Homo sapiens: one gene and its partner. The protein of the gene in region 1 interacts with the protein of each later gene in a pairwise test. Each region holds a gene or a part of one and is shown on either strand. Other genes may lie near its edges.

Region 1 (3,337 bases):
TTTTGAACCTAAGTAAACCTCAATCCGGAGGGCCTAGCGGTAAGGTGGGCGCTGTGTCTATTGAAGTGCTTAGCAATAAAGAAAGGTAGTGAGTTGATTCGGTTTTCTCTCAAGTGTCTTTATTTTCCTATTCTGGCACCCCAGAGGTCTGGCTGATCCACAGGCAATCTTGGAAAAGGGTACAGACATGAAAACGGAAGCTCGTTACCAGTGACTTTTCATCTCTTGGGATTGCCTTCTCCATTTCTGCCCGTGATTTTTTTTTTTTTTTTTTGAGACGGAGTTTTGCTCGTTTCCCAGGCGGGAGTGCGATGGCACAACCTCCACCTCAAGCGATTTTCCTGCCTGAGCCTCCCAAATGGCTGGAATTACAGGCGCCCACCACCACGCCCGGCTAATTTTGTATTTTTAGTAGAGACGGGGTTTCTCCGTGTTAGGCTGGTCTCAAACTCCTGACCTCAGGTGATCTGCCCACCTCAGCCTCCCAAAGTGCTGGGATCACAGGTGTGAGCCACCACGCCCAGTCAAATACTGTTTTTCATGCCTTTTGCCCCAGGGTGAGTCCAAAAAGGCTTTTGAGATTTGTGGAGGGAAGTTGACACCACCTAGGGTTCCCATGTGCCTCCTTAGGGAGGCAGCCATGGGCCATGGAGGAATGGTAGCCACACACCTGCTGAGGGTTCTGGGCCTTGCTGAGTCTCTCAAACTCCAGCATCCTGCTCTAGAAGTGGATTTTTTTCAACAGATGAGACAGACGCTCCAGAAAACACAACTTTATTCACTAGGACTGAAAACAAAGGCTTGTGCAATCAAAAGGCCAAGTTGAGTGCAAGGTGGAGCGTGCTCGGAAATCACAGACCTCACCTGTGGCCAGGCCGGGCTGGCAGTTGTTGTTTCTGGTGTTTTCTGTGATTTCCCACATTTTATCACAAGGCCACAGGCATCCTCCAAGGTCAGTGAGGAAGACCCTATTGCTGTTTGAGCCAGAGCCTCCTAGAGGGTGGGCCGGGAGCAGGCAGCTCCCAGGACACACAGATGCACGATGTGATTAGCAGTGAAGCCTTCTGTCCCAGGCGTGGGCAGGCGTCCTCCCTTAGCTGCCTGAGCATGTGCGGCTGAAGACATGGCTTTTCTAGGGTTAGGCACTGTGCGTGGTGCCAGCCCCAGCCCTCCCTCACCTGGACGTGCCCAGGAGGGGGCAGCAGAGCACCGTGGCAAAGTCTGTCCACTTGCCGCTCCCCGTCCCGTGCAGAAGACTGCTTTTCCGTGGCGGCCAGTGTGCGGCCACGGGCTCTCAGAAGCCTGCTTGTTGGGACTGTTGCTGGGAGGAGGAAGGGACAAGGCTTGACCTGGGGCTCCTGAAAACAGACACTCGGGCGTTGGCCACTGGGCAACAAAGTCAGAAGGGCCTGGAGACCCTCTGTCCAGCCTTCTAGGGACTGGACGGCTTCCTCCAGAGGACTGAGCTCAGCCAGGTTCAAGGGCGGCAGCAGGAGGCCCCTCGACCCTCCCTCTTAACGTAATCATGCAGCCGGAAGCGCGGCTCGCTGGGAGCCTTCATGGAGCGCTGCTTCAACTCCCTGCGGAGTGGGGGTGACAAGGGGACACGATGGCCTGGACTCTAATGAGGATTCAGGCCCTGGGCTGGGGGAGTCCTGGTGACTGGCAGGACTTACTTTGCTATGGCTGTGAAGGCCAAGTCCACGTTGAGGCCCGTCTTGGCGCTGGTCTCCATGAAGGGCAGTCCATACTCCTGTAAACAGCTGCTGCCAGCCAGGTGGTGGCCTGGCGGGGACAGCCTAGGCTCGCAGCCTCCAGGGGCACCCCCTCACCACCCCCCTGCCCTGACTCACCTTGGCCAGCTTCTCCCCGTCCTCCCTCTTCACCACACGCTCATGGGCAGAGTCCACCTGGCCCAGGCACAGGGTCTTGGTGAAAGCTGGCCCATGGTTGGCCCCTGCCCCCTCACCTGCCCTGCCCTGTGGCCCAGGTGAGGACAGCCGGGCCTCCCACCTTGTTCCCCAGCAGCATGAGCGCCACGTCGTGCTGGGCGTACTCGTGGATCTCGGTCAGCCAGGCCTGTGGGAGGCAGCAGACCAGGCTGGGGCTCCCTGCATGGCTTGCCCCATGCCCCAGAACTTTGGCCCTCCAGGTCACACTGTAGAGGGCACCTGTCTTTATCTTTTTTTTTTTTTTTTTTTTTTTGAGACAAGAGTCTCGCCCTGTTTCCCAGGCTGGAGTGCAATGGCTCCATCTCGACTCACTGCAGTCTCCATCTCCTGGGTTCAAGCTATTCTCCTGGGGTTCAGAGAACCTTGGGAGGGTTCAGCCTCCCAAGTGACTGGGATTACAGTTACGCACCACCACGCCCAGCTAATTTTTTGTATCTTTAGTAGAGACGGGGTTTCACCATGTTGATCAGGCTGGTCTCCAACTCCTGACCTCGTGATCCGCCCACCTCAGCCTCCCAAGGTGGTGGGATTACAGGTGTGAGCCACCATGCCCAGCCCATTTTATTTTTTTGAGACAGTTTTGCTCTGTTGTCCAGGCTGGAGTGCCGTAGCACAGTCTTGGCTCACTGCAACCTCAGTCTCCTGAGTAGCTGGGATTACAGGTGTGTGCCAAAACGCCCGGCTAATTTTTGTATTTTTAGTAGAGATGGGGTTTCCTCATGTTGGCCAGGCTGGTCTCGAACTCCTGACCTCAGGTGAGCCGCCATGCCTGGCCAGGATACCTGTCTTTAGAAGTGATAACCCCCCGTGTACCACATACAGAAGCCCACCTTACAGGTCCCTTACACAAAGCCTCCTGCTGAGGGAGCTGGAATGGCACTCAGGTCCACTTGGGCCACCTCCAGCCCAGAAGGCTGTCATTTCCCCCTCCCCTCTCTCAGCGGGGTCCTTTGGAACCCTGATGCCATCTACCAGAAGGAGGTTGGGATGGGTCAGGCCCTATCAGGGCCCTTTCACCCCACCAGGAAAGCCACTGACCTGGATGTTGTCAAAGGAGGCCTTGTTGGTGACATCGTAGAGCAGCAGCAGAGCTGGGGACAGAGGGCAGTGAGGACATCCACCATCACCTGCACCCTCAGGTGCTCAGACCCCCGCCCCAACCAGCCCAGGTACCCAGGGGCTCACCATGAGCATCCCGGTAGTAGGCATGGGTAACACTGCGGAACCGCTCCTGACCAGCTGTGTCCCACATCTGCAGCGACAGGCACTGGTCAGGCTGTCCAGCCCTTCCCTGGTGTCCCCTGTCCCCCAACTTGTCCTCTGCCAGTCACCTTACCTGCAGCTTCACCTTCACACCATCCACGTCCAGAACTTTGTTCTGAAAC
Region 2 (7,296 bases), on another chromosome or scaffold:
TGAGGAATCTAATGCATTAGATTCACTTTTCCTAATATAGAAAGGAATGGAAACAAATCCACAAATACCATAACCTCTGTCACAAGAAATTCTGCAATTATTGTTGCTCATGACATGCCATACATACATATCTATCTTGGATCAAACATTATTCAAGTTAAAATAAAGGGCATCTCTAGATTGGGATGCTAATAATAAATAAATAAAGGTTAAAGGTTTTCAGAGCCTGTAGTAGCTACAAAAAAAAAAAAAGAGAGAGAGAGATGCTACTTAAACCTCATTATTTTAACCTATGAACCTGGTATTTAACATGAAAGGCTTATCCTGAGAGCCTTCTGCTACTTTGGTTTTGTTTTTTAAGTTTCAAGTTATTAGTCAGGTTAATAAAGAATAACCATATATGTATAATTGTAAATACCTGAGATATCAGCAATTGGCAGCTAAAAATTTTAAATATAATTATTCTAATTGAAAAACTTTCACTATGTTTTAAATTGCTGGGAAACAACAAAGAGAACCTTACCTTTCCAACAAATGGAACCAAGTGATGCTCACACATGGAAAACATGTCTATGTCCTTCACAATCACCATCTCATCATGATCTTCATCAAATATAGCATCGTTTAGGACATCTGAAATCAGAGGCTTGCTTTAGTAACATGTCCAATTTTATAGAAAGGTAGAATTATGGATAAACATGAATAGACAGTCAACATAAACGAACGTTAATCCTCCCTAAAATATTAAGGGAATACAAATTAAAACTAGATATTTTTCCTTATCAAAGTAGCAAAGTCCTTTTCTGTAAGTAACATTTAAAAATCCTTGATACAGTGTTACATGAAAAATGCAGGATTATGAACATATTTGCAGTATGGAAGAGGAAGGAGAACGGAGGGAGGAAAGGAAAAATTATACCAAAATAAAACAGTGGCTATTTCTGGCAGTAGAAATGGGCCACTTTCACTTTCTTCCTTACATTTTCTTCTACTTTATATTTTGTCTATAATCAATATGTAGAAAACCATATCTGAGAAAAAGACTAATCCTTAGCCCTCTGACTTCTGAGGCCAGATCCAGACACCTGTAAACCTGACCTCTATTATCAATTCCCCAAGTAATTTTCTACATTTGTAAAGTGTTCTATATATTGTAGGCTAGCATCAGACTTATTCTAAACAGTTGCCTTCCTAAGGAAATAAATCCTACAGTTTGTGTGTATATGCCTCTCTGGGAAGGCTTTGGAAGATAAGCAGTGTCTTGTTTAAGCTGTGGACCCTGGCACTTCCAGCCAGACATACAATAGACATTAAAAAAAAAAAAAGCTTTATTTTTAAAAATTGCACTGACTTATCCTCAACTATGCTATGTGCAAAAGAAAAGATTAATCAGATGATGCCTGAGAGCACTCTGAGCTTCCTAACATTCGGTGACTGCAAGAACATCCTGTCCTGGATGCTGAAGAGGGATAGAGGGAAACAAGCCACATTCCCCACCAATCATAATATAGCCAAGCTATTGATAATAGGCAGGTACCCAAACAACATTGTAGATAAATGCCATATGACATGGAAACTTCTTCAGCTATATTGTCAAATGAGAAAAGAAGCTACAAAGAAATACAGTAGGATTTCATTTTCGGAAAATAAATATAGACATAGAAAAAAACTGTACTGATACCTAGACAGCTTGGCAGACTAGATATAATAAGACACGTAGCTGAGTAATTTCAAGGATTTGGGGGATATGCAATATACATAATAGAATTAGACAGAGAAGGGAAGGGATGTATTAGAGCTTTGCACCTGCAGCTCTTTCCCCTCAGAAAGGCAGGCGGCTGAGTGAGTCACAGGAAGATGGACAAATGTCCACCCACACTGCCTGACCTTCAGTGGCTCCACTGCTACTAGAATAGGGGGCTCACAGAGACCAAGTCATCACGTAAACCACAGTTATTACCCCAAGTCAGGCTATTCAGAGATACATTTGACTGTGTCATAGAAAAGTCATTAGTGTGGTCAAGAAAGGCGAACATGGCAGGGTTAGACACATACAGACAAACAGAGACACCCCTGGTAGAAGTGGCTGATAACATCCCAGGAGAAAAAGGCGCAGTGTCACTCACTGAGTATTTCTTCTACCACAGCACTTTTCTATGCTGAATATTCTGCCCTACCTTCAGTCTTATTTCTGAAAAGAAGACCAAAAATAGATCCTTAATGTTTCCAAAAGTTTCTTGGATTTCTCCCCAAGATTTTAATATGGTATGATTGCCACATATAGCTTACTAAAATCTTTAGTCACACAAGATATATTCCTGGAAGGAAAAACAAACCAAAAAAATGTCTTAAAGAAAAAACAAGAGAGAAGCATTAAATATAGGAAGCATTTGTTTTCTCTGGCAAAGAATGAGAGCGTCCCCATCCTAAGCTCTGACGACAACCATATGGCCCATGTTAAAGTCAGCCCTTCAACTCAGGCGAAGTGAAGAGCTGGCTCCAGGCTGGGTGCAGTGGCTCATGCCTGTAATCCCAGCACTCTGGGAGGCAGAGGTAGGTGGATCACCTGAGGTCAGGTGTTTGAGACCAGCCTGGCCAACATGGTCAAACCCTGTCTCTACTGAAAATACAAAAATAAGCCAGGCGTGGTGGTGCATGCCTGTAGTCCCAGCTACTCGGGGGGCTGAGACAGGAGAATTGCTTGAACCCGGGATGTGGAGGCTGCAGTGAGCCGAGATCATGTCACTGTACTCTAGCCTGGGCAAGAGAGAACAAGACTCCGTCTCAAAAAAAAAAAAAAAAAAAAAAAAAGATCTGGCTCCATCACTTACTAGTTATTAGGCCTTGGGCAAGGTACTCTGTACCTCAGTCTTCTCGGCTATAAAATGAGCATAAAGTGCCTGCTTCACAGGGTGTCATGAGGATTAAATGGGCACATGTGTTTAGAACTATGCAGGCGGAGCAAGTGCTAGTTATTGTTATTACTATTATTATTACAATTAAGATTGAGGGAGCTGCAAAGCTATGTATCTCCCATGCATATTGAGGTACATCAAAATTTAAAAAGCAATAATTTGCCTTAACAGAGTACAGAAAAGGAAAAATAGTAACTTGGTGGAGAAACCTGGCAGAGGCTACCTTAACCAAATGATTAAGGTTAACTTTGCCAGTAACAGGACATACTGACATCAGGTAGCTCCTGATAGGACACCATGAGAAGGGCACATCACCTCTGCGGTATTCTTCCCAAAAATCCATAACTGCAGCCTAATCATCAGACAAATCTAGGGACACAAAATATCTAAACAAGTACTCTTAGAAAGCATCAGGCCAGGCACAGTGGCTCACACCTGTAATCCCAGCACTTTGGTAGGGCAAGGTGGGAGGATCACTTGAGCCCAGCATTCTGAGACCAGCCTAGGTAACACTGCAATATCCCATCTCCACAAAAAATAAGAAAAAAATTAGCCAGGCACGGCAGCACACTCCTATAGTCATAGCTATTCAGGAGGCTAAGGCAGGAGGATCACTTAAGCCCAGCAGTTCAATGCTACAATGAGCTATGATTGCACCACTCCACTCCAAATAGAGTGACAGGGCAAGATCCTGTCTCTATTTTTTAAGTGTTTAAAAATTAAAAAAAAAAATTAAGGCATCAAAGTCATGAAAGACACAGAAAGACTAAGGAATTGTCAGATTGTAGGAGACTAGAGAAATGACAATGAAAATCTGAATAAAGTCTGTAGTTTAAATAATAGTATTGTACCAATATTACTTTTTAAAATAAAGTATATTTTTATTATTTTTTCTTTTTTTGAGACAGAGTCTTGCTCTGTCGCCCAGGCTGGAGTGCAGTGGCATGATCTCGGCTCACTGCAAGCTCTGCCTCCCAGGTTCACACCATTCTCCTGCCTCAGCCTCCTAAGTAGCTGGGACTACAGGCGTCTGCCACCACCCCAGCTAATTTTTTGTATTTTTAGTAGAGATGGGGTTTCACCATGCCAGCCAGGATGGTCTCGATCTCCTGACCTCGTGATCCACCCGCCTCAGCCTCCCAAAGTGCTGGGATTATGGGCGTGAGCCACCGTACCTGGCCTTATTATTATTATTATTATTTTAGAGATGGGATCTTGATATATTGCTCAAGCTAGTCTTAAACTCCACGGCTCAAGCCATCCTCCCACCTTGGTCTCCCAAGTAGCTGGGACTACAGGCATGCACCACCACCTGGCTCCAATATTAATTTCTTTTTTGAGATGAAGTCTCACTCTGTCACCCAGGCTGGAGTGCAATGGCGTGGTCTCGGCTCACTGCAACCTTCGCCTCCCGGGTTCAAGCGATTCTCCTGCCTCAGCCTCCCGAGTAGCTGGGACTACAGGCACGTGCCACCAAACTCAGCTAATTTTTTTGTATTTTTAGTAGAGACGGGGTTTCACTATGTTGGCCAGGCTGGTCTCGAACTCCTGACCTCGTGATCTGCCAGCCTTGGCCCCCCAAAGTGCTGAGATTACAGGCGTGAGCCACCATGCCCAGCCAGTATTAATTTCTTAAATGTTGATAATTGTACCATGGCCATGTGAGATGTTAAACATCAGGAGAAACTGGGGAAAGGGTATATGAAAACTCTCTCTACTATCTTTATAATTATTCTGTAAGTCAGTCTAAAATTGTTTCAAAATAAAAACTTTCTTTTTGAAACGAAGTTTTGCCCTTGTTGCCCAGGCTGGAGTGCAATGGCACAATCTCAGCTCACTGCAACCTCTGCCTCCCAGGTTCAAGTAATTCTCCTGCCTCAGCCTCCTGAGTAGCTGGGATTATAGACACATACCACCACGCCCAGCTAATTTTGTATTTTTAGTAGGGATCGGGTTTCTCCATGTTGGTCAGACTGGTCTGGAACTCCCGACCTCAGGTGACCCACCTGCCTCAGCCTCCCAAAGTGCTGGGATTACAGGCGTGAGCCACCGTGCCTGGCCCAATAAAAAGTTTTCTAAAAAGCAAAAGGACAATGTCCCTCAACTGGAACATATAAACAATGGAGTACACTCAGCAAGAAGATGGAATGAATTACTGATACATGTAATAACATGGTTTGAGTCTCCAAAGTACACTACAATGTGAAAGAAGACATCCATACACAGAAGAGACTACCTATGTTCTAGAAAAGGCAAAACTATAGTGATAGAAGGCAGACAGGTGGTTTACCAGGGCCAGAGAGGTAGGAGAGAGAACTTCACTGCAAAAGGAAAGAAAGAAACTTTTTTGGGTGATGGAAATAGTTCCTATCTTCACTGTATGGGTGGCTATATAACTGCATACGTTTGTTAAAATTCACATTGTACATGTAAAGTAGGTAAATTTTACATAAGATAAGTGACACCTTAATAAAGCTAACTTCAAACATAATTTTTAGGCTGGGTGCGGTGGCTCACATCTGTAATTCTAGCACTTTGGGAGGCGAAGGTGAGAACATTGCTAGAGGCCAAGAGTTCAAGACCAGACTGCCCAACCTAGCCAGACTCTGTTTTTACCAAAAAAAAAAAAAAAAAAAAAAAAAGGGTGGGGGTGGAGCCAAGATGGCCGAATAGGGACAGCTCCAGTCTACAGCTCCCAGTGTGAGCAACGCATAAGACGGGTGATTTCTGCATTTCTAACTGAGGTATCGGGTTCATCTCACTGGGGAGTGTCGGACAGTGGGTGCAGGACAGGGGGTGCAGCGCACCCAGTGAGCCAAAGCAGGGCGAGGCGTCACCTCACCCGGGAAGCACAAGGGGTCAGGGAATTCCCTTTCCTAGTCAAAGAAAGCGGTGACAGATGGCACCTGGAAAATCAGGTCACTCCCACCCTAATACTGCACTTTTCCAACGATCTTAGCAAACGGCACACCAGGAGATAATATCCTGCGCTTGGCTCGGAGGGTCCTACTCCCACAGATCCTCGCTCATTGCTAGCACAGCAGTCTGAGATCAAACTGCAAGGCGGCAGCGAGGCTGGGGGAGGGGCACCCGCCATTGCCGAGGCTTGAGTAGGTAAACAAAGCGGCTGGGAAGCTTGAACTGGGTGGAGCCCACCGCAGCTCAAGGAGCCCTGCCTGCCTCCGTAGACTCCACCTCTGGGGGCACGGCATAGCCGAACAAAAGGCAGCAGAAACTTCTGCAGACTTAAAAGTCCCTGTCTGACAGCTTGGAAGACAGCAGTGGTTCTCCCAGCATGCAGCCTGAGATCTGAGAATGGACAGACTGCCTCCTAAAGTGGGTCCCTGACCCCCGAGTAGCCTAACTGGGAGGCACCCCCAAGGAGGGGCAGACTGACACCTCACACAGCCGGGTACTCCTCTGAGACAAAACTTCCAGAGGAACGATCAGGCAGCAACATTTGCTGTTCACCAATATCCACTGTTCTGCAGCCTCCGCTGCTAATACCCAGGCAAACAGGGTCTGGAGTGGACCTCCAGCAAACTCCAACAGACCGGCAGCTGAGGGTCCTGACTGTTAGAAGGAAAACTAACAAACAAAAAAGACATCCACACCAAAATCCCATCTGTACATCACCATCATCAAAGACCAAAGGTAGATAAAACCACAAAGACAGGGAAAAAACAGAGCAGAAAAACTGGAAACTCTAAACATCAGAGTGCATCTCCTCCTCCAAAGGAACGCAGCTCCTCACCAGCAACGGAACAAAGCCAGACGGAGAATGACTTTGACGAATTGAGAGAAAAAGGCTTCAGACGAACAAACTACTCCAAGCTAAAGGAGGAATTTCGAACCCATGGCAAAGAAGTTAAAAACCTTTAAAAAAATTAGACGAATGGCTAACTAGAATAACCAATGCAGAGAAGTCCTTAAAGGACCTGATGGAGCTGAAAACCATGGCACGAGAACTACGTGATGAATGCACAAGCCTCAGTAGCTGATTCGATCAACTGGAAGAAAGGGTATCAGTGATGGAAGATCAAATGAATGAAATGAAGCAAGAAGAGAAGTTTAGAGAAAAAAGAATAAAAAGAAATGAACAAAGCCTCCAAGAAATATGGGACTATGTGAAAGGACCAAATCTATATCTGATTGGTGTACCTGAAAGTGACAGGGAGAATGGAACCAAGTTGGAAAACACTCTGCAGGATATCATCCAGGAGAACTTCCCCAATCTAGCAAGGCAGGCCAACATTCAGATTCAGGAAATACAGAGAATGCCACAAAGATACTCCTCGAGAAGAGCAACTCCAAGACACATAATTGTCAGATTCACCAAAGTTGAAATGAAGGAAAAAATGTTAAGGGCAGCCAGAGAGAA

Evidence for each region.
Region 2: the proteins of RAB26 (region 1) and GCH1 interact in a two-hybrid assay, tested with the Homo sapiens proteins (one study listed by BioGRID and IntAct).

The regions. Positions count from the first base shown.
Region 1 is NC_000016.10:2,151,562-2,154,898, reverse strand, and holds the end of RAB26 (ras-related protein Rab-26), read right to left. Parts: intron 3,331-3,337; coding exon 3,289-3,330; intron 3,205-3,288; coding exon 3,138-3,204; intron 3,044-3,137; coding exon 2,991-3,043; intron 2,080-2,990; coding exon 2,014-2,079; intron 1,911-2,013; coding exon 1,854-1,910; intron 1,754-1,853; coding exon 1,677-1,753; intron 1,581-1,676; coding exon 1,478-1,580; 3' UTR 734-1,477; downstream 1-733. UniProt on the Homo sapiens protein: The small GTPases Rab are key regulators of intracellular membrane trafficking, from the formation of transport vesicles to their fusion with membranes.
Region 2 is NC_000014.9:54,864,804-54,872,099, forward strand, and holds part of GCH1 (GTP cyclohydrolase 1), read right to left. Parts: intron 634-7,296; coding exon 524-633; intron 1-523. UniProt on the Homo sapiens protein: Positively regulates nitric oxide synthesis in umbilical vein endothelial cells (HUVECs). May be involved in dopamine synthesis. May modify pain sensitivity and persistence.